3 separate regions of the Homo sapiens genome follow, and all the other regions are linked to region 3. The links come from fine-mapping of genetic effects on gene expression. A gene starts in region 3. Each other region holds a variant in brackets. All regions are shown on one strand. Distances are between the middles of the regions. Region 1 overlaps MED13 (mediator complex subunit 13). Region 2 overlaps BRIP1 (BRCA1 interacting DNA helicase 1). Region 3 holds the start of MED13 (mediator complex subunit 13).

Region 1 (8,000 bases), 48 kb before region 3:
ATTTTTGTATTTTTAGTAGAGACGGGGTTTCACCATGTTGGCCAGGATAGTCTCGATCTCTTGACCTCGTGATCCGCCCACCTTGGCCTCCCAAAGTGCTGGGATTACAGGCGTGAGCCACTGCGCCCGGCCGAGACACCTTTTTGTACAGAGCCTGAGATATCTTATTGTGCATAGAGAAAAAAAAGAACCAAAGTTATCAAAAAAAACCAAACTCGTTTCAAAAGGACATAGGAGAAATCCACCATTATCCTAATATTAAAATCAAAGATATTACACAAAAAGAAAACCATAGACCATTATCTCTTAAGAACACAGATGTAAATAATTAACAAAATATCAGCAACTCAAACCAGCAAAATATAAAAGAATAACACATCATGACCAAATGAAGTTAATTCTGGGAATGTATGGTGTAGCATTCAAAAGAAAAAAATATCATGCATCACATTAACAGAATAAAAGAAAACCATATTATCTCAATAACTATAGAAAAAACCCTATTAATACTATTAATATATTCAACCCCTATTTATATACACTCGGCAAGCAAGGAATAAAAGAAAATTTGCTTGATCTGATGGATATCTATGAAAAACTACAACTAATATCTTACTTGATGTTTAAGCATGAATAATTTCTCAAGATTAAGAACAAAGCAAGAATATTAGCTCTCAACATTTAACATTTTACTGAACGTTTTACCCAATGCAATAAGGCAAGAAAGAGGTCAGAGATTTCGGAGGAAGAAGATAAATTGTCTTTATTCATTGTCAACATTATTACAAACTATACAATAAGGCCAGATGCAGTGGCTCACACCTGTAATCCCAGCACTTTGGGAGGCCGAGGTAGGTGGATCATGAAGTCAGGAGTTCAAGACCAGCCTGGCCAACATGGTGAAACCCCGTCTCCACTAAAAACACAAAAATTAGCTGGGCGTGGTGGTGGGCACCTGTAATCCCAGCTACTCAGGAGGCTGAGGCAGAAGAATCGCTTCAACCCAGGAGGTGGAGGTTGCAGCAAGCTGAGATCACACCACTGCACTCCAGCCTGGGCGACATAGCGAGACTCTGTCCCACCCCCCACCAAAAACACAAACAAACAAAAAAAGTATACAATGAAAGGGTCAGGCTGATCCCCACCTAATCAATCTTAACATTACTAGATATGGGACAACCAGATACTGTCTCTCTCTGACGTAACATAATACAAAGCAACACAGCCACCATCTATGAAGTACTCTTGCCAAAAATATTGAAGTTGAGTCTAATCAAGTAATCAAGCCCCCAGATCAGCACTGAGCACTGTCTAGAACTTTCTATGATGATGGGAAGTTCTGTATATGTTTTTATATATATATATATATATATTTTGAGACACAGTTTCACTCTGTCACCCAGGCTGGAGTGCAGTGGCACGATCTCAGCTCACCACAACCTCTGGCTCCTGCGTTCAAGCGATTCTCCCACCTCAGCCTCCCAAGTAGCTGGGATTACAGGTGCCCGCCACCACACTGGGCTGATTTTTGTATTTTCAGTAGAGGTGGGGTTTCACCATGTTGGTCAGGCTGGTCTTGAACTCTTGACCTCAAAAGATCTACCCACCTCGGCCTCCCAAAATGCTGGGATTACAGGCATTAGCCACTGCACCCAGCCTGTATATGGCTCTTGAGTACTTGAATTGTGGCTAGTCCAATTGAGGAACTAATTTTTTAAGAGACAAGTCTTGCTCTGTCTCTTAAAAGGCTGGAATGCAGTACAATCATAGCACACTGTAACCTCAAATTCCTGGACTCAAGAGAGCCTCCCAAAGTGCTGAGATTACAGGCATGAACCACTGTACCCAGCTGAGGAACTGAATTTTTAATTGTATTTAAATCCAATTACTGTAAATTTAAATAGCCAATAGTAGTTACTAACACAGCTAGTATTGGATAGCTCAGCTCTACAGCTACCTTCCATTTATAGAAATGCAAAGGAAAAAGGAAGAAATTAAATTACACTGAAAGAAGTAAAATTACATGACAAGTAAAACGAAAAATCCAGAATGTGGGGCACTCTATAGGAGGAACTGACCTAGTTTTACCAACCGAGTCAATGTCATGAAAAGGGAGCAGGAGACAACTAAAAGGAGAGATTTAGAAAACATAACAACCAAATGTTTACTCCTTGTTTGAATCCTAGTCAAATAAACTATCTACAAAAAGACATTTCTGAGAAAATCTGGACAAGGTATCATAATATTAGGTATGACGGTAGAATTATATTCATGTAAGAAGATATTCGTATTTTTTAGAGCCGCATACTGAAGTACTGCAGAAGTGTAATATTTAAGATTTGCTTTAAAAACCTTTATCAAGAGCATAGCATAAGGATTTGCCAAATAAAGTATTACATATCTATAAAATGCAGTATTATGAACTTTTTAAAAAGAATGAATCTGTAAGTGCTAACATGGATAAACACCCAGGCTGTTTATCAAAAAAACAATAAGTTGCAGAAATACAGCATGATTCCATTTGTGTGAAAGAAAGCAACAGGCAGACCTACATACATAAGAGGGGAACCTGTTAATTTTTAATTTTATATTCTTGTGTACTGTTTGAACTTTTAATTTTATTTATTTAACTTTTGAGACAGTCTCGCTCTGTTGCCCAGGCTGGAGTGCAGTGGCGTGATCTCCGCTCACTGTAACCTCTGCCTCTCAGGTTCAAATGATTCTCCCACCTCAGCCTCCCGAGTAGCTGGGATTACAGGCACCTGCCACCACATCAGTCTAATTTTATATATATATATAATATAGATATACACACACTATATATATATACACACACACTATATATATCTATATATATACATACACACTATATATATACACACACACTATATATATGTGTATAGTGTGTATGTGTGTGTGTATATATATACACACACACACACATACACACTATACACATATATATATATATATATATATATATATATATATATATATTTTTTTTTTTTTTTTTTTTTTTTTTTTTAGTAGAGACCGGTTTTTGCCATGTTGCCCAGGCTGGTCTCAAACTCCTGATCTCAAGTGATCTACCCACTTCAGCCTCCCAAAGTGCTGGGATTACAGGCATGAGCCACTCACCCAGCCTGAACTTTGTAAAAGAGCATTTTTTTTTTTAAACACAGAAATTTGTTCAAAAACACAAAAAACCAAGAACAACAACAA[A/C]AAAAAAAACCCAGCAGGTCCTACCCAACGTATGAATAATCCCTTCTCTTTTTTTTTCCTCATGCTGTTGCCCAGGCTGGAACACAGTGCCGCGATTAGCGCTCACTACAGCCTCCCAGGTAGCTGGGATTACAGGCAAGAGCCACCTCATTGGCTTGAATGGGTTCTTTTTGAATACTTTCAATGACAAGGACCATACTACTGTATAAGGAGATGCATCCCCCTCATCAAATAGCTCCAACTGCTAGAAGGTAAATTCTTAATATTGAATAGAAATTCATCTTTTCTGTATCTTCCAGCCCTTCAGTCCTATTTCTACCTAATTTATAAAGCTGCACTATCCAATAATGGTAGCCACAAGTTACATGTAGCTATTAGACACTTGACAAGTGGCTAGTCCAAATTGAGATGTGCTATAGATGTAAAATACCAATTTTCCAAGACATGTTATAAAATAAAGAAATGCCAAATATCACTAATGTTTCATCACAATTACTGTATGTCAAAATAATATTTTAGATAAATCAAGTTCAATAAAATATATTGGGCTGGGCATGGTGGCTCATGCCTGTAATCCCAGCACTTTGGGAGGCCAAGGCGGACGGAACACCTGAGGTCGGGGGTTCTAGACCAGCCTAGCCAACACAGTGAAACCCCGTCTCTACTAAAACTACAAAAAATTAGCCGGGTGTGGTGGCAGGCGCCTGTAATCCCAACTACTCAGGAGGCTGAGGCAGGAGAATCACTTGAACCCAGGAGGTGGAGGTTGCAAGTGAGCCAAGATCACGTCACTGCACTCCAGCCTGGGTGACAGAATGAGACTCCACCTCAAAAAATATATAATAATAATAATAAATAAATAAATAAATAAAGTAAATTAAACAAATTTTAAAGATCTTCAGCAAGAGAAAAGGTCTAGTTGAAGCAAACACAGTAAGTGAATACGAATGGTTGATAAACAGGAATTCATTGCCCAATTCGCTTACTTTTGTCCATGTTTGAAGTTTCTAATAACAAAACAGAGTAGAACTAAAATGCTAAAAAAAAAAAAAAAAAAGCATGAAAGATTTGAGGAGCAAGATTAAAGTATTCCAAGGTCTTTGTTCATTCCATAAAAAGAGCGTAGACTCTAACTTTAGACTTTAAGGAAAGCAGGCATAATAAATGATTAATTCAATTAACAAAAGAACAAAAATAGAACACCAAACTTCTAAATCAAGAGAAGAAACTGAAAAAAAGAATATAAAAAGGAAAAAATAACAGTATCATTAACTCATCAATTATTCAAATATTTGTCTACTAAATTCAAAGTATGGTCTATGAACCCTCCTTTTCAGGGGCTACAGGGGTTCAAAACTATTTTCATAATAGCATCAAAACAGTATCTGACTTTTTTATTATGTTGAAATTTACAAAGATGGTGCAAAAACAATAGGCAGCAAAACTTCTAGCAACTGAACATGAATCAAAGGGAGTGGTACCAACTGTACTAGCAGTAGTAGTCACTGCTTTCTCCACCACCACACATTCAGTTTGTTGTTTTTTATGATAGTATCACTTAAGAATGTCCTTCATGAAGACAGCAAAAATAATTTTTATTAATCTCAATCCTTATACAATCTTTTTACACTCTGTATAAAGAAATAGGTAGTGCATATAAAGCATTTCTGCTATAGATTTGAAGTACAATGGCTATTTTGAGGAAAAGCGCTTGTACGACTGAGTTACAAGCTGAAACTAGCTTTTTTCATGAAACACCATTTGAAGAACAAAGGACTGGTAGATAAACTAAGATTATCCATATTTGGTCATTTGGCAGATTTGTTTATTAGGTTATCAAACATGAACAAAATGAGTTTGTCATTTAAGGAAGAACTAATCATTTTGAGCTTGACTGCTAAACAATGACTACTACTGCTAATACAGTTGGTACCACTGCAATATTTAGAATTTTGGAAAACTATCTGACACAGTGCTTGAGCTTTCTAATACTTAAATACTTTTCAGGTGAGATCACTGGCAATATTAATGAATGAAATATTTTGATACTCTGCATTGGCTGAATTCCACATCCTCAAATTCAACCAACCAGAGATGAAAAATATTATTTTTCAAAAATGAAAAGTTAACAGTACAAGAATAAAAAATAATATAAATTGTAAAAACAATACGGTATAACAACTATTTACGTAACACATTGTATTAGGTATTATAAACAAACTACAGATTGTTTACACTGAAGGGCCAGGTACAGTGGCTCATGCCTGTAACCCCAACACTTTGGGAGGCTGAGGTGGGTGGATTACTTGAGGCCAGGAGTTCAAGACCAGGCTGGCCAACATGGTGAAACCCAATCTCTATTACAAATACACACACACAAAAAGTTAGCTGGGCGTGGTGGCGCATGCCTGTAGTCCCAGCTACTTGGGAGGCTGAGGCACGAAAATCGCTCGAGCCAGGGAGGGGCAGGTTGCAGTAAGCCAAGATGACACCACTGCACTCCTGCCTGGGCAACAGAGGCAAAGACCCTATCTCAAAAAAAAAAAAAAAAGTATACTGAAGGATGCATACGGGTTATATGAATACTAACTCATTTTATATGAAGGACTTGAGCATCCGTAGATTTTGTTATCTGTGAGGGTTCTAGAATATCGATCCTACACGGATATTTAGAGATGAGTATATATAACAAAATGTGCCAACATTCAGATCTATATAACCCAGTGAACTGATATTTTTCAAATGACCAATGCATGATGTTACAAAATCGAAAGATCCATTCAGTTATTAGTGAAGTACAACCACTGACAGGGCTTTAGATTCCACATTCCAACCAACCCTTAAGAAACTACCACTTGTCAATTTTTGGTGTAGTATCAAAGAAGAATATCCACAATTATCTGAAAAAGTTATTAAAATACTCTCTTCCCTTCTCCAATTGCATAGCTACATGAGGCTGGATTTTCTTCATATACTTCAACCAAGACAATATCCAGCAATAGGCCGAATGCAGAAGCAGATATAAGAATTCAACTATCTTACTACACTCAATATTAAAGAGACTTGCACAACTGTAAAACAATGCCACTCAATTAGCTTTTTGGCTACTGTTTTGGAAAATATAGTGGATGTCTATTTTATTCATGTTAATATGCACTGAAATTATTGTTTTTAATAAGTGGTGCTTTAAAATTTCTCTAAAATATAAATAGATGTAATAAACGTACTTTGCAGTCTTCGGTAATTTTTTAAGACTGTAAATAAGTTCTGAGACAAAAAAGTTTGAGAATTAGTCTATTTTATGCAAGGCAGTAGGAGAAATAGGATCTCCATTCATCTGAGGTGAACTATTTAGTTATGTCCCAAGTGTACAAGGGATGTGAAAAGTAAATGGCCATACATTCACTTACCCAGCTATTAAGAGTAAGAAACTATTAACTGGGGCTACATACTAATAGCAGCAGTTCTCTAAATTTTTGACAACATTAAATCAGCCCTTTTCTTCTATACAGACCTCTTTCTAAAAGCTAGTTTCTTTAGAGAGTACAATTGAATTTCTTTTTTTCTTTTTTTTTTTTTTGAGACGGAGCCTCGCTCTTGTCACCCAGGCTGGAGTGCAGTGGCACAATCTCGGCTTACTGCAAGCTCTGCCTGCCAGGTTCACGCCATTCTCCTGCCTTAGCCTCCCGAGTAGCTGGGACTATAGGCGCCCACCACCAAGCCTGGCTAATTTTTTTGTATTTTTAGTAGAAACACGGTTTCACTGCGTTAGCCAGGATGGTCTCGATCTCCTGACCCTGTGATCCGCCCGCCTCGGCCTCCCAAAGTGCTGGGATTACAGGTGTGAACCACTGCGCAAGGCCAAACAACTGAACTTCATGCTAGAACACAACCACATTGAGCAATCTTTGTAAAAAAAAGAAATTGTCCTCAAAGCACAAACCAACAGAGTAATCCTTTTAGATTATTTTTTCCTATTGATGTTAGGTATGCAGTACTTTAATGTTAACATGAGAAATTTAATGTATTGCTTTTTACTTAGCAGCCTTTCTTTTTTTTTTTATGAAGATTAAAGAAAACCTTTTATTGAGGTATAACTTACAATAAATAGTGCACATTTAAGTGTGCAGCTCCTTTAATTTTTTACATATGAATACATCATTGAGACTTTCTGTAACCCACTTTATACTGTAGTTTGCTTTTTATTTTTCTTTTTTTAGACAGTCTCGCTCTTTTGCCAGGCTGGAGTGCAGTGGCACGATCTCGGCTCACTGCAACCTCTGCCTCCCAGGTTCAAGCGAGTCTCCTGCCTCAGCCTCCCAAGTAGCTGGGACTACAGGTGTGCATCACCACGCCCGGCTAATTTTTTTTTGTACTTTTAGTAGAGATGGGGTTTCACCATGGTGGCCAGGATGGTCTCGATCTTTTGACCTCGTGATCCTCCCGCCTTGGCCTTCCAAAGTGCTGGGATTTCAGGCGTGAGTCACTGCACCTGGCCTGCTTTCTTTTTTTTTTTTTTTTTTTTTAATTGATCATTCTTGGGTGTTTCTCGCAGAGGGGTATTTGGCAGGGTCATAGGACAATAGTGGAGGGAAGGTCAGCAGATAAACAAGTGAACAAAGGTCTCTGGTTTTCCTAGGCAGAGGACCCTGCGGCCTTCCTCAGTGTTTGTGTCCCTGGGTACTTGAGATTAGGGAGTGGTGATGACTCTTAATGAGCATGCTGCCTTCAAGCATCTGTTTAACAAAGCACATCTTGCACTGCCCTTAATCCATTTA
Region 2 (8,000 bases), 230 kb before region 3:
AAACTCATATGGAACCAAAAAAGAGCCCAAAAAGCCAAGGCAACCCTAAGCAAAAAGAACAAAGCTGGAGGCATCGCACTACCCAACTTCAAACTATACTACGTGGCTACAGTAATCAAAACATCATGGTACTGGTACAAAAACAGATACATAGACCAATGAAACAGAATAGAGAGCCCAGAAATAAGGTCACACCTACAACTATCTGATCTTGAACAAACCTACCAAAAACAAGCAATGGGGAAAGGATTCCCTATTCAGTAAATGGTGCTGGGATAACTCGCTAGGCATATGTAGAAGATTGAAACTGGACCCCTTCCTTACACCGTATTCAAAAATTAAGATAGATTAAAGACTTAAATGTAAAACAAAAACTATAAAAACCCTGGAAGACAACCTAGGCAATACCATTCTGGACATAGGAACAGGCAAAGATTTCATGATGAAGACAACAGAAGCAATTGCAACAAAAGCAAAAATTGACAAATGACACCCAATAAAATTAAAGAGTTAATGCACAGCAAACGAAACTATCAACAAAGTAAACAGACAACCTACAGAATGGGAGAAAATTTTTTGCAAACTATGCATCTGACAAAGGTCTAATATCCAGCTTCCATAAGGAACTTAAATTTACAAAGGAAAAACAACCTCATTAAAAAGTGGGCAAAGGACATGAATGGACACTTTTCAAAAGAAGATATATATGCAGCCAACAATCCTATGGAAAAAAGCTAACATTACTGATCATTAGAGAAATGCAAATCAAAACCACCACAATGAGATACCATCTCACACCAGTCAGAATGGCTATTATTAAAAAGTAAAAAAAAAAAAAAAAAAAAAAAAAACAGATGCCGGTGAGGTTGCAGAGAAAAAGGAAAAAGGAACACTTGCACACTACTGGTAAGAATGTAAATTAGTTCAACCATTGTGGAAGACAGTAGACAGTGTGGCAATTCCTCAAAGACCTAAAAACAGAAACACCATTTGACCCAGCAATCCCATTACTGGGTATATACCCAAAGAAATATAAATTGTTCTATTATAAAGACACATGCACACGTATGTTCATTGAAGCACTATGCACAATAGCAAAGACATGGAATCAACCTAAATGCTAATCAATGGTAGACTAGATTTTAAAAATGTGGTACATATACACTGTGGAATACTATGTAGCCATAAAAAAAATGAGACTGTGTCCTTTACAGAAACTTAGATAGAGCTGGAGACCATTATCCTTAGCAAACTAATGCAGGAACAGAAAACCAAATACTGCATGTTCTCACTTATAAGTAGGAGCTAAATCATGAGAACATATGGAAACATAAAGGGGAAAAACACACAATGGGGCCTATCAGAGGGTAGAGGGTGGGAGCAGGGAGAGGATCAGAAAAATAACTAATGGGTACTAGGCTTAATACCTGGGTGACAAAATAATCTGTACAACAAACCACTACCACACAAGTTTACCTATATAACAAACCTGAGCATGTACCCCTGAACTTAAAATAAAAATTAAATTTAAAAAAAATGGGGCTGGGAGTGGTGGCTTACACCTGTAATCTCAGTACTTTGAGAGGTAAGGCAGGAGGATCACTTGAGACCAGAAGTTCAAGGCTAGCCTGGCCAACATGGTGAAACCCCATCTCTATTAAAAATACAAAAAATTAGCCAGGCGTGGGGGCACACACCTGTAATCCCAGCTATTCGGGAGGCTGAGGTGGGAGGACTGCTTGATCCTGGGAGGCGGACACTGCAGTCAGCTGAGATAGTGCCACTGCACTCCGGCCTGGGCGACAGAGTGAAGCCCTGTCTCAAAAAAGGGCAAAGGACTTGAATAGACATTTCTCCAAAGAAAATACACAAATGGCTAATAAGCAGAAGAAAAGATGCTCAACATCACTAATCATTAGGGAAATGCAAATCAAAAACACAAGATACCACTTCACACCCTTAAAAATGGCTATTCTTTAAAAAGGACAACAAAACAGATAATGAGGTTGGCAAAGATGTGGAGAAACTGGAACCCCTGTGCATTGCTGATGGAACTGTAAAATGGTACAGCCACTGTGAAAAACAGCTTGGCAGTTCCTCAAAAACTTAAATATAGAATTACCATATGGTCCAGAAATTCCACTCTTAGGTGTATACCCAAACGAATGAAAACAGAGACTCAAACAGATACGTACACCAATGTTCACAGCAGCATTATTCAAAATAGCAAAAAGATGGAAACAACCCAGATGTCCACTGGCAGATGAACGGACAAACAAAATGTGGTATATCCATACAATGGAATATTATTCAGCCATAAAAAGAAATAAAATTCTGACACATACTACATGGTGGATGACCTTGAAAACATTATGCTGAGTAAAATAAGCCAGACACAAAAGGACAAATATTGCATGATTCCACTTACATGAGGTATCTAGAGTAGTCAAATTCATAGAGACGGAAAGGAGAACGGCATTTTTCCTGGGGCTGGACAATAGGGAAATACAGAGATATTGTTTCATGGGTATGGTGTTTCAGTTTGGAAAGATGAAAAGGTTCTGGCACTAGATAATAGTATATAAATATGCATAATACCACTGAATTTACACTTAAAAACAGATAAATGGTAAATTTTATGTTATATATATTTTACCATTAAAAACATGAAGGTAAGAAAAAAAGCTGAAAAAATATTTGCAATGCAAATGTTAAATAAAGCTCTTTAAGCTAATAGAAAAGTTACACAATACAGAAACTTGGACCTACAAAATGAAGGGCACCAGAAGTGAAAAACTGGAGGGTTAAGAAAGAAATTATTTTCCTCATTTGTAAATTTGTACATAGCTGATGATTTAAACTAAAAATAACAAAACACTGTGAGGGCTATGACAAATGTAGAAGTAAAATATTTGACAAAAATGGCACAAAACATGGGAGAGTAGACACGGAAGTATATTGGCAGAAGGTTCTTACACATTATTTGTGAGTTGAAATATTATTTGAAGGTACACTGTGATAAGTTTAAGATGCAAAGTATGAAGCAACTCACAAAAATAAAACTAAGAGGTATACTTAAGAAGACAGTGGTGAAGGTAAAGTAGAATCCTAAAACATGTTTAATTAATTCAAAGAAGACAGAAAAGGGGAATAAAGAAAAGTTGGAACAAACAGAAAACAAATAGTAACCACAGTGATAATTACACTGAATGTAAATAGTATAAGTGTTCCAATTAAAAAGAAGAGGTTGTCAGATTGGATAAATAAAGAAGACAATTATTTATAAGAAACTTATCTTAAATCTAAAGACACAAATAGGTTAAAAATAAAAGGATGAAAAATATATACTATGGAAACATTAATCCTAAGAAAGCTGGAGTGGCTATATCAATGTTAGCCAAAATAGATCTCAGAACAAAGACATTTCATAATGACAGATGGGTTAATACATCAAGAAGACATAATAATCTTAAATGTGTATACAGCTAATAACAGACCATGAAAACCCATGAAGCAAAAACTGGTAGAATTGAAAGAAAAGGCAAATCCACAATTATAGGACCCTTACAGTATTCTCTAATTAATTTATAAGTAGACCAAAAAAAACCAGCAAGGATACAGAAGATCTTAGCAAGATAATCAACAAACTTGACCTAACTGATTTTTATAAATGAATACCCATACTTTCCAAAAACTCACAGAGCATTTGCCAAGACAGATCGTCAAATTTAAAAGAACTGAAATCATATAGAATCTATTCTCTAACCACACAAAAATAAATTAGAACTCAGTAAGAGAAAAATATCTAGGAAAAAACACCTAGTTAGTGTTTATTTAGACTTCTAAATAAATCTTGGGTCAGAGAAGAAATCACAAGGGAAATCAGAAAAAAATGTAACAACATCAAAATTTGTGGGACACAGATAAAGAAGTGCTTAGAGGGAAATGTATAGCTTTCATTGGTGTTTTATTTAGGAAAAAAAAAGGTCCAAAATCAGTTATCAACTATTTAAGTTTCAATCTTTTTTTTTTTCTTTTTTTTTGAGACGGAGTTTCGCTCTTGTTGCCCAGGCTTGAGTGCAATGGCACGATCTCAGCTCACTGCAGGCTCCGCCTCCTGGGTTCAAGCAATTCTCCTGCCTCAGCCTCCCGAGTAGCTGGGATTACAGGCGCCCACCACCATGCCTGGCTAATTGTTTGTATTTATAATAGAGACAGGGTTTTGCCACGTTGGCCAGCCTGGTCTCAAACTCCTGGCCTCAGGTGATACGCTCGCCTCAGCCTCCCAAAGTGCTGGGATTACAGGGGTAAGCCACCATGCCTGGCCAAGTTTCAATCTTATGAAGCTAGCAGAAGAGAAAATTACATCCAAAGAAAGTAAAACAATGGTAATTAAAAAAAAAAAAAGCAGAAACCAACAAAATAGAAAATGGAAAAACAGAAAGTCAACAAAAACTTTTTAAAAGATCAATAAAATGGATAAACCTCTACTACCTATTACAGATTGAGCAAAATGAATTCTAGATTAAGCAAAAAAAAGGAGATAGACACAAATTCACAAATTATGAATATCAGAAATGAAAGAGGGCATATCACTACAAATCCTACAGACACTTAAAGAAATAAGAGAATATTTTGAACATTATGCCAATAAATTCAAAAACTTGAATGGACAAATTTATTGAAAGATACTAATTACTAAAACTGACTCAGAAACAGAAAATGTGAATACTCCTATACTCATTTTTAAAATTAAATTTAAAAGTAAAAGTCTTCCCAAAAATAACACATAAGGGCAAGATGGCTTCCCTGGTGAATTCTATCAAAAATTTAAGGAAGAAGTAATATCAATACTTCCCAACTCATTTTATAAAGCCAACATTACCTTGATATCAAAGCCAGATAAAGA[C/A]ATTACAGAAAACTATAGACCAATATTCTTATGAACATAGATGGAAAGAATCCTTAACAAAATTTAGCAAGTCAAATCTAACAATTATATAAAATGGGTCCTATACCATGATCAAGTGGGTTTTATTCCACTAATTTACAGTCAGGCCAACATTCAAAAACTAATCAATGTAATTTACCATATCAACAGGATATAGGAGAAAAAACATATAATCCTACCAAGGAATGCAGTAAAACTTTAAATATAAAATCCAACATCCACTCATTATAAAAATGTTCAGCCAACTAGCGATAGAAGGAAACTTCTTTAGCCTGACAAAGGGCATAGACAGAACACCTAGCACAAATGTCATACAGAACAGTGAGGGACCAGAATGTTTTCCACCACAAGGTTGTGAACAAGGCAAGGGTATCCACTCTCATCACTCTAATTCAGCCTTGTACTGCATGAAAGGTAAACACTGTAAAGGAAGAAGTAAAACAGTATTTACTAGAGAATGAAACATGCAACTTTGGGTACTTAGAAAGTCCTAAAGAAACTCCAAAAATATCAACTAGAACCAATAAGTGATATAACAAGTTGCAGGTTACAGGGTAAATATACAAAAATGAATTCTACTTCTATAATAGTAATGAATAACTGGAAGGAAATTATAAGTGGAATCATACAATATCTGTCCTTTTATGACTGGCTTATTTTACTTCACATAATGTCTTCAAGTTTCATCTATGTTGTAGTACATGTCAGAATTTCCTTCCTTTTAAAGGCTCAATAATATTCCATTGTATGTATACACCACATTTTGTTTATTCGTTTATTTATCAATGGACATTTTGGTTGTTTCCACCTTTTGGCTATTGTGAATAACACTCCTATGAACACTGGTGTACAAGTATCTGAGTACCTGCTTTCAATTCTTTTGGATATTTGCCTAGAAATGTTATTTCTGGACCATATGGTAATTCTGTTTTTAACTTTCAGAGGAATCAGGAACAAGGTTTTTCAGTTAAACATACAGAAAGGAAGAAAATTAGAATGGGCCCTCTGGTACTGGAATGGAACTGGATGTATTGGTATAAACACTCATAATTTTCAGTGTACAGACAGACAGATACAGAAAAAATATAGACATAAATGTATATGTCTATGAGTCTGGGTTTGTGTACACAATACATTGTGTATATTCTCTAGCTGTCTGCTGAAAGGGCCTGGAGCAGCAACTCCAACAGCAATGAGCAAAACTAACTCCCAGAACACAGCGTTCAAATGTTATTTTTCACTAAATGGAACCAGGGTTCCTTGGAGAAATGTCTGAATCCGAGACTAGGGCAGGGAAAATATAAGGTGAGCCTGGAACACTATCTTTTGCCAAAAAATAAGGAAGCGTTCCAAGAATGATTGATATATGTCAGAAAGACACAAGCAACTTAACTGGTTTCCCACTTGAGTACCAAAACAAATCATATAATAATTATAACTCACCGAATAAAATGGAAAATCACAAGTCCATAAAGATATAAATAAAATGAGTAAACTGAATTTTTGTAAGGACATGTTATTTATATAATTTCAGAGTTCTTCCCCATAAAGTCCTCTTTTATAAAGGCAAAAAGATAACTGTAAAGTTATATTTTTTACCTAGCAGATATCATATTAATCAAGTTATCAATCATTAATGAGAAAAAATGAAACTGCGTGCCACCTTATAAGATGCAATGAGCAGAAGGCATCACTTCTGTGACATTCCTGCCAAAGATAAATAACCTCAGTCTAATGAGAAAACCCAAATTAAGAGACATTCTAGATAAGCTGTAATATTCTGAAGTGTCAAAATCATGACAGTCAAGGAAAGACTGAAGAAGTGTTCCAGACTGAAGAAGTTACTAAAGTGATAACTAAATGCAATGCATGGTTCTGACTGGATTCTTTTGCTTTTATAAAAGCGTTATTAAGACAACTGCTAAAATTTAAACCGGTTCTGAGTATTAGATGGCAACAATGAATCAATTTTAACTTCCTGATTCTTATGGTTATATTGTGATTATGTATAAGAATGTCTTTGCTTATAAGACATAGACACTAAAGTATTTCAGGGTGAGGGAACATCAGGGCAACAACATACTCTTAAATGGCTCAATAAAAAAAGATATTTGGATTGTACTTCCAATTTCTCTATAATTTTGTGACAGCCAAACTTTTAAAAAGCTAAAATAACCGAAAGATAAATTTACTGGGCAGACAGTTGGTCAATTAACGAAGTAGTTTTCAAAGGTAAAGTTATCTTTCCACACCCAGTATCCATGAATGAAAACGTTCTACATGACAATTGCAGATACTATCACCACTGAATAGCTACACTCATGTCGGATGGGTTGCTATACATATTTATTTCATTAATGTATCTACACATCAAGAAAACTTAGAGGAGTGGCTGAATTTTGTCAACTTTCTCTGAAATATTCACCAAGTTCACTCAATATGATAAAGAAGATTTGAAACTTTTGAGAATTAAACATTTCCACCATAGAGAATACTATGTTTTCTCCAAGCTCTCAAAAAATTATAATTACTGGGCCAGGCACAGTGGTTCACTCCTGTAATCCCAGCACTTTGGGAGGCCAAGGCAAGCGGATCATTTGAGGTTGGGAGTTCGAAACATGCCTGGCCAACAAGGCGAAACCCTGTCTCTACTAAAAATAAAAGAAATTAGCCAGGCATGGTGGCAGGCACCTGTAATCCCAGCTACTCGAGCGGCTGAGGCAGGAGAATTGCTTGAACCCAGGAGGTGGAGGTTGCAGTGAGCCAAAACTGCACCACTGCACTCCAGCCTGGGTGACAAAGCAAGACTCCACCTCAAAAAAAAAAAAAAAAGCCATAATTATTGGAGCTGAAGGACATACTCAAGCAATTAGTCATCCATTCTATCATCCTACCCCTAGGCAAATTTGCAGACAAGGCAAGAGATTCACACTAACTCCACTAACCTCTGGCCTAACTTAACCAAGATTACAATAGTATAGAACGGGCTGGCAAACTTTTTCTCTAAAAGGCCAGAGATTTTCCTGCTGGCTGAACATGAAAAGAAAGAAAA
Region 3 (8,000 bases):
CACTCCAGCCCGCGGGACAGAATGAGACTCCGTCTCAAAAAAAAAAAAAAAACCAACCTCCCAAAATTATTTTCATTCACGTTCAAGATCACTATCTATTTTTTTTTTTGAGACAGAGTCTCACTCTGTCGCCCAGGCTGGAGTGCAGTGGCAAGATCTCGGCTCACTGCAACCTCCGCCTCCTGGGATCAAGCAATTCTCCTGCCTCAGCCTACTGAGTAGCTGGAACTACAGGTGCGTGCCACCATGCCCAGCTAATTTTTGTGTCTTCAGTAGAGATGGGGTTTCACCATGTTGGCCAGGATGGTCTCTATCTCCTGACCCTGCGATCTGCCTGCCTCAGCCTCCCAAAAGTGCTGGGATTACAGGCGTGAGTGAGCCATGGCACCCAGCTGATCACTATTTTAAAGGTACAAGTAACTACCATTTTTGAAAATTACGCTAAAAATCAAAGCTAGAGAAAAATGTTTAAGACTGTAACCTAGTTTCAGTGGAGAAAACATATCTGACTGGTAACATGAAACCTAGAAGACAAAACTGACTTTTAACAATATCCATCAAAGCAGCTCACATCTAACTTTAATAGTCTTTTAACTTTCACAATATTTTTTCTATTACGGTAAAACTAGGCCAGGTGCAGGGGCTCACACTTGTAATCCCAGCACTTTGGGAGGTTAAGATGGAAGGATCACTAGAGTTCAGGAGTTCAAGACCAGCCTGGTCAACACAGCAAGACCCCATCTCTACTTAAAAAGAAAAAAAGAAAAAAAAAATTAAACATTATGTATCTCTTAAAATTATCTTTGATTCTACAAAGTGTATTTCATGGAATCTTAAAAAAAGATCTGTTTAGTCTGTTTAGATGCTCTGCCAACTTTATTAAGAAGACCAAAGCCCCTAAGTCACCATTATAGTTTTATCAATAATTATGTTTTATCAACAAATATATTTTATCAATAGTTTATAGTTTTTCAACAATGTTATACAGTCTCCAAACATTCTAGTAAGGTGATTTTTATGACCACTTAACGATTAAAATAACTCAAATACTATATCCAAAACAATGAAAGAAAAAGGAGGCTGGCGGACTTAGCTTTTGGCATAATTAGAAAGTATTGTCTCGCTAAAACTACCATATATACATACATCATGTATATGTACATATATGTATATACATATACACATCACTTTACACATTTAGAACTACATTAAATACACACAACTAAGGACTGGACTCTGCAGCAGGCATCTTATTAGAAAAACTACAAAAGCTGGAAAGCTTTCTTGAAGAATTGCAGTCACTCTCAAAAATAACAATTAACACTGGAGAGTATGTTCATTAGAATGTGAAAAGCAATTATCAAAACATACAAATGTAACACGTACATTCCTACATAAATGTTGGTCTTACTAAGTACCAGTTCAAGATACAGACACCTAGAATACATTCTATCCAAAAATAAAATAGATCCTATAGGTCAGAGATACAATAACAAAAACTTCAGAGTACTCAATTTCAAATAAGAACTTAAAAAAAATTATCTAGAAATCCTAAGTTTATCTGTCAAAAATCATTATCAAACTATCTTACTGAAGTCTTTGGAACCTTATAGCATACAACCAATCATTTATATTCCTATTATCTAAGATTCAGTTAATACTGACTTTCACAATTTAAAGCTTCAGTAATTATATGAAAAGCTATAGTTTCTCTTTCTAAAGTAGCATTTGGTCCTAAAAGTCAAGAAAATAAGGAAGTAATCACATTGATTTGCTCACAATAAAATTGTTTGTGTAACCTTTTAGATTATGATCCCATGTCCCATAAAAGCTAAACAAGTTGGCACTTTTCTCTTATTATGTTTGACAGAACAGTATATGAGTCACTTTCCAAAAATAACTAAATTAACATATGCCTTCATAAGTTAATCAAATAGCACAAATGACAATAACAAAATACATGCCTTAAAACACACACACACACACACACACCACACACACACACACACACACACACACGGATAGTTACATTTCCAGTACTTTTAGAATCATCTGCCTATTCAATGCAAAAGACTCAACTTCAGCAGTGGCTGAAGTGACTCAAAAGTTACATCTGGCTTCTAAACTATTACACGACTTTGTTAGGAACTCTGTTTCCTGATTCCATTTTTTTAGATTAATGTAACATGCCTTCTTCGGGCCCTAACTACCTGTGAGAAATTAAGAAGAGAGGTGGTGGAAGGAGAAAGTCATTCACGCCTTAAAAACCCAGCTATAACAACATGGATAATTTAAGTAAAATAAAATAATCATGGTGAAATAAAACAATGAAGCTGAATTTTTATCTGGCCTCCTAAGTCTCCCACAAAAACAAACTTAATTTGTAATACATATGACATTCTGGGAGAAGTATACAATGTTGCTATATCATTAGTTAGAAATGGAAAGTTTCTTTCACCTGATAAGTCATGGTGAATAAGGTCAGCAAAACTGGGGTCTTCACCCCACCAAAATATCCACAATTCTCTTCTTCCAGGTCTTTGATCTCGCCGCCAAACACCAAGTACATCTGCCTTAAGGCAGCGACTAAAACTGCTCAAAATGGGGTCTTCTTCTGTCACAGGAAACAGAATAGGGGCAGAAGTTGGGCCTTGCCATACATATTTTTTCCACTTAATTCCTGTCAAGTCAGCCTGAAGGAAAGAAAGCATTAAGTTTTATTACTGCATATTCACTCAAAGTCAAAAGTACTCAATATGATGTCTCTTATTTCATTAAGACATTACAATTTTTCAATGTATGCTTGAGATATTGACTGCAAATTAGAACAAAAAAAGACTTTATAATTCAACAACCAAGAATTTTAGGGAGAAGAATACAGTTAAAAATTACCACCACCATGTCACTGAATAGCAAGCAAATATGTACTCCAAGTAGAAACAGAAGAAACTGAATGATGTTAAATATAGACACACACTTCAATATGCAAACAGAGTACATTTTTCTCTGTCCTAACTGGTCACATTTGTTCACTGGTGTCAAACTTTTAACTGAAAATCAATTATTAAAGACCCTATCATGGGTTTTTATTCCACATTTACAGAAGTAACGTCTCTAATGAAAAGACATCTGAACAAGTTCTGAAAAAATCTATGTTAATTCTTCACACACACCCCTGTCGGAAAAGTCAAATAGCTACTCACAAAGAACTGTCAGATTTGTGCTAGTCTATCTTCAAAGAACTGATCCTAAAAGTACCAAAAATAGACTGAGTTGGATAAGATAGAAATATAAAACCTGGTGTATGTCTTATTACATGTGAAGAGATGCTGATTAATGGACATTGAAAAGAAAAACATACTGTAGACGAGGATAGAGTATTAAAGATCTCAATTTAGCATGGGCGTTAAGAAATTCGACAAGAGGAATTCAGTAATTTAATCTAACTTAAAGGAGCAAAGCATAAGGTGCCAAAAATGAAACTGCTGATACATGACTGGCAGTTTACACTTGCCAACTAGTTGTGCTCCTCCCACTTAACTCACTTACCTATCATATACTCTTAATATTTCTCATAGCACAAAGGAGAAAATGAAAAAGTAAAGTCACCCAAACTTAAAGTCATTGATGAAGCTCAGCTACTGTCCCATACAGGACAAGTTATTTGCAACAGTTGGTACTTCTGAAAGCCTTAACTGTTGGATGTTACCAGACCTGGGCTAACCTACACAATGATCATCCCTACATCCCGCTTCTCTCGACTTTCCATTTCAATCAAACAAGGGAGCAGCCTGCTCAAAACATTCTGAAAAAGCAACCAAAACACAATAAATATAGAAACAGTGCAAAACCACAGCACCTCGTCCACTAGCCCCCTTCACTCTCACAAAAACATCATGTTCTAATAAAAGCAAGATGGCTAGAAATTGTCAAAAATGGCAAACTGTTTTCAAAGTTTAAAAAGAAAACATATGAAATGGCACCTACTGGCTTTTACAGAGAGATCTTAAGTCACCCAAGAAAGAAACTAACCTGGCGTTAGTTTGACTCATACAAAAAAAATGTAAAACCAAGACAGGTTTCTAGGGCTTAAGTTCTGGGGTCCTGTTTACATGGGGAAACCAAATTAAAAGGGTAAGACATAAAGGCGGTGGGGAGCAGGGGCAATAATGTAAAGTGTGAAGCAGGGATACAGGGCCAATAAGGAGAAAAGCAACAGTTAAGCAAGACAAGAGGGAAAGGTTACTGTCCTGCCAGATAAGGAGCTCAAGTTGAGGACGAGACTACGGTGAGAAGGAGAGTCCGAAACAAGACGAGAAAAAATGCCAACACTCCCCTAAACAGAGCCCGGGACCGTAGGAGAGCGAACGCCGCCTCCCGGGGCTGGCCGCGGAGCTTCGCAGGGCGCCGGCTCCGGCTGGGCCTCGCCCGGGAACTCGGGCATCTGGACCAGACCCGGCCCCCTCCCCCACGGCCCAAGGGCGCACCTCGCGGCCCCCCTCCCTCGGCGCCCGCCGGCCCCGGCACTCACCAGGCAGAAGAGGTTACAGTGACAATCTTCCAGGCTGGCCCCGTTCGGCACGAAGGAGGCACTCATCGTCCCTCACAGCAGCCGCCGCCGGCGCCACAACCCACCATCCGCCATTACCGCCGCCTCCGACCAGAGAGAGAAACACAGACACCGGGGAGGGCCGGGGGGGGGGTAGTGGTTGGGGGGGCGGTGGAAGAGGAGGCCGCCGGGCGCCCGCCCTCCCCACCCACCCCCCCGCCGCCGCCGCCGCCGCCGCCGCCGCGAGCAGCCCCCGCCGCCCGGCCGGCACCCAGCCGCCCGGGGCCGAGGGCCGGAGGCGGGAGGGCCGCGCCGCGCTCGCCTGGCGGGCCGGACTGCGGATCCCGCAGACGCTCGTCCCTCTCTGGGGGACGGAGGGGATGTGTGCCCCTACCACAAGAAAAATAATAAATTACACAATAAATAATCAAAATCAAGTCCGAGACGGCAGAGCCCAAGCCCAGGACGGTTCTCCCGGGCGGAGAGGCGCCCGCACAGGAGCGGGAAGGGCGAGAACCGGGAGAGAAGCCCAGGCCCCCGGCGCGGCAGCGGCGATGTCCTTAAGCCCAGAGTCTCCTCAGCGGCGGAGGTGGTGGCGGCGTCTGCGGGCTCAGACCATTCTCTGGCTCTGTCTTCGTGTCGTTCCTGGGCCAAGCCGGCCTAAAGTTTGCCCTCCTGTGGCCTCACCGGCTGGACGCCGTAGTCTCCCCCATTTTGTGGGCCCAGCGGGCGGTGTTTTTCCCCCTTTAATCCGAATTCACGGGTTTTCCCTTCGCTTTAATGGCGGCCACAGGGACCAGCTCGCCCTCTCTGCTCACCCATTGGCCGCCTTGAGGTCACGTGGGCCCGGGCTCGGTTGGGAGGGGGAGAGAGAAGTGAGCGAGGGAGGGCCGGGAAGCTTTCGGCGGAGGCGGTGAGCTCGGGGGACGGGGCAGCCAGCTGGTGGCCACTAACATAGCGCCATCTGCTGGGTGCCCCGGCCAGTATAAAACGACCCGGGGCCCTGGCCCTCTCTTTGCGGGGAAATTTACAGTCCAGGAAGGTTCATTTCACAAATCAGTGAGAATTACGTGGAAATCAGTTTGAGTTCTTTGGAAGAGAAAGTATTGGCAAAAATTCCAAGACATTCTCATTTATTTCGCGAGGCCGCTGGGGTGCAGGTGCAAACCTCTGGATTTGGGAGTCAGATGATCTGGATGGGGATAAGACTCCTCAACCTAAAAGTTGTGATATGAAGATATAAATTTAAGAAACAAAATATTGCCCTGTAGTTAATAGACTGGGAATTAGAGCCACACTGCCTGGGTTCCAAGCTTGAGCAAATCACTTCCTGCTCTGTGTCTTTACTCATCTGTAAAATGGGGAAAACATATCCCTTACCCCACAAGCTTATTGTAATGAGTTAATACAAATTAAGCAGGTAGCCCAGTGCCCCGCACAGATAAGCACTGTTAAGAGTTAACTATTATTGTTGTCATCATTACCTCATATAGTTATTGTGACGAGCAGGAGAACTAGTGTATGTAAAGGTCTCACTATTTTTTTGTTGTTTACTTCTGTCTCTCTAGTGCCTAAAAAAAGGTTCCTAGCACACAGTAGGTGCTTGATATTTGTATAGTTACAAATGAATGGGTGGTAAGAAGTAAGAACCAAACAAAAGGTTTATTCTCTTTCCCATAAAACACCCAGTGCTTGGATGGGTTACACTTCAATATGAGTTCAAAACAGTTTCTCTGACGGTTTTAGGATTGCAAGAAAGAAAGAAGAAGAAAAAGATGATTCAGAAGTTAGAAACATCAGTGAGTTAGGACTTACTGTAATTTTATGTATTACAGATACATAATTATGTATTATGTATTACAGATACATAATTGTATCTGTAAAATGAATGGTAGACTCTTCCATGTCACTTCTTCAGCCACGGAATGAAAAGAAGTCCTCATTTATCCACTTGTTCATCTGTGGTGGTGAAGAGCCCAGATCTGAAGCCCAAAGCCTGGAGAAAAAGTTCTGCCCCTCACTAGTTAGTCTTAGATCATATTTGACCTTAGATCAAATTAATTTTGCTTTCTCTCGGTTATTGTAAAATGGGGGTAATAAAAGTACTTTTCTTCTAAAATGACTGGTGAATGAAACAATGTAGATACAGTGCTTGCCACAGTGCTTACTTAATGTTAATTATTAATGTAATTTTAAAAATCATTGAGAACCTGCTGGCTCAATTGAGTGTGTTCCTGCTCTGTGCTAGGCCTAGGATACAAATAGGAATAAGATACCTGCCTGTCCCTCAAGATTCCTGAAGAGAGGCACTAAAGGAAACATTTCCTACAGAATAAGGTAAAATACAATGGGGGTAATTGCTTGAATAAAGTATGTACCTACTATGGCATAGTAAGTGCACTAGAAGAAGAGCATCAAACTTAGAGAAGTTGTCATAAAGTAGGTAGCATTTGAAATCAGATTTGAAGGATAAAATGAATTCTTATAAAGCCCTTTGAAGCAGTTAAATCTTATTAAACCTAATTCGAACCCAAAGTCCACATATCAAAGTCAATTATGCAACCAGGACTAATTCAATCCAGGAGCTCAAATCAACTAAGGTTGGCATCCTTTATAACCGAGTGCCAGCACCAGGAGACAGCAATCCCCAGATCCAATGAGGTAAGCGCTCCTCTGCCCATTTCCCGTTCCCTGAAAAACTCCTCAGATCTTTGTTCCGCTGCTTTCCTCAGGCTGAAATGCCCTCCTCACATCTAAAGGGGTCTCCATTCTCCTTAGAAGTCTTGCCCTCCCATTGCCCCCACCCCCTGACTTGAGCACCATCCTCAGGATTCCAATGGCAGGTAGAATATACCTGAAACCTACCAGTAGGAGGTAACATTTGATTGACCTTTCTGTTTGAATGTCAATCTTTTCAAAAAGAAGAGGGAGACAAGGAGACAGAAGCGAAGAAGGGAGGAAGACCCAGAAGAAAAAGTCTGATGGAGGATCGCAGAAGGGAGCAGGAGAGAGAGAGAAAGACAGGACTGAGAGAATGGAGAAGCAGATTAGAATGGGGGGGATCCCAGTTGTGAGGGGAATGGAATCATTGGGAGAAGGGAAAGAGAAGAAATAAATATTTTCAGCCCACAAAGAACGTATCAGTAACCACTTACATTCGGTAAAAATGACATTTTGTGTGATTTAAAGAGTAATGGAGGCCGGGTGCAGTGGCTCACGCCTGTAATCCCAGCACTTTGGGAGGCCGAGGCGGGCAGATCATGAGGCCAGGAGATCAAGACCATCCTGGCTAACACGGTGAAACCCTGTCTCTACTAAAAACACAAAAAGGCGGGCGCCTGTAGTCTCAGCTACTCGGGAGGCTGAGGCAGGAGAATGGCGTGAACCCGGGAGGCGGAGCTTGCAGTGAGCTGAGATCGCGCCACTGCACACCAGCCTGGGCGACAGAGTG

The links. PIP is the estimated chance that this variant, and not a neighbour inherited with it, causes the effect.
Region 1: its variant is fine-mapped to the expression of MED13 in whole blood (INTERVAL, PIP 0.96).
Region 2: its variant is fine-mapped to the expression of MED13 in whole blood (INTERVAL, PIP above 0.99).

Annotation. Positions count from the first base shown.
Region 1 is chr17:62,012,959-62,020,958 of GRCh38, forward strand. The region is part of intron 8 of MED13 (mediator complex subunit 13); the gene reads right to left. Among named protein-coding and RNA genes, the nearest start is that of MED13, 48 kb to the right of the region's middle. The variant A/C (reference allele first, on the strand shown) is at 3,223.
Region 2 is chr17:61,825,907-61,833,906 of GRCh38, forward strand. All of the region lies in intron 6 of BRIP1 (BRCA1 interacting DNA helicase 1), which reads right to left. Among named protein-coding and RNA genes, the nearest start is that of BRIP1, 34 kb to the right of the region's middle. The variant C/A (reference allele first, on the strand shown) is at 4,910.
Region 3 is chr17:62,060,609-62,068,608 of GRCh38, forward strand. MED13 (mediator complex subunit 13) reads right to left here and starts at 4,670. Exons shown (of 30, transcript NM_005121.3): 1 at 4,532-4,670; 2 at 2,459-2,693. The coding sequence starts at 4,597. RefSeq lists enhancers at 4,061-4,160, 5,071-5,330 and silencers at 4,311-4,590, 5,381-5,460.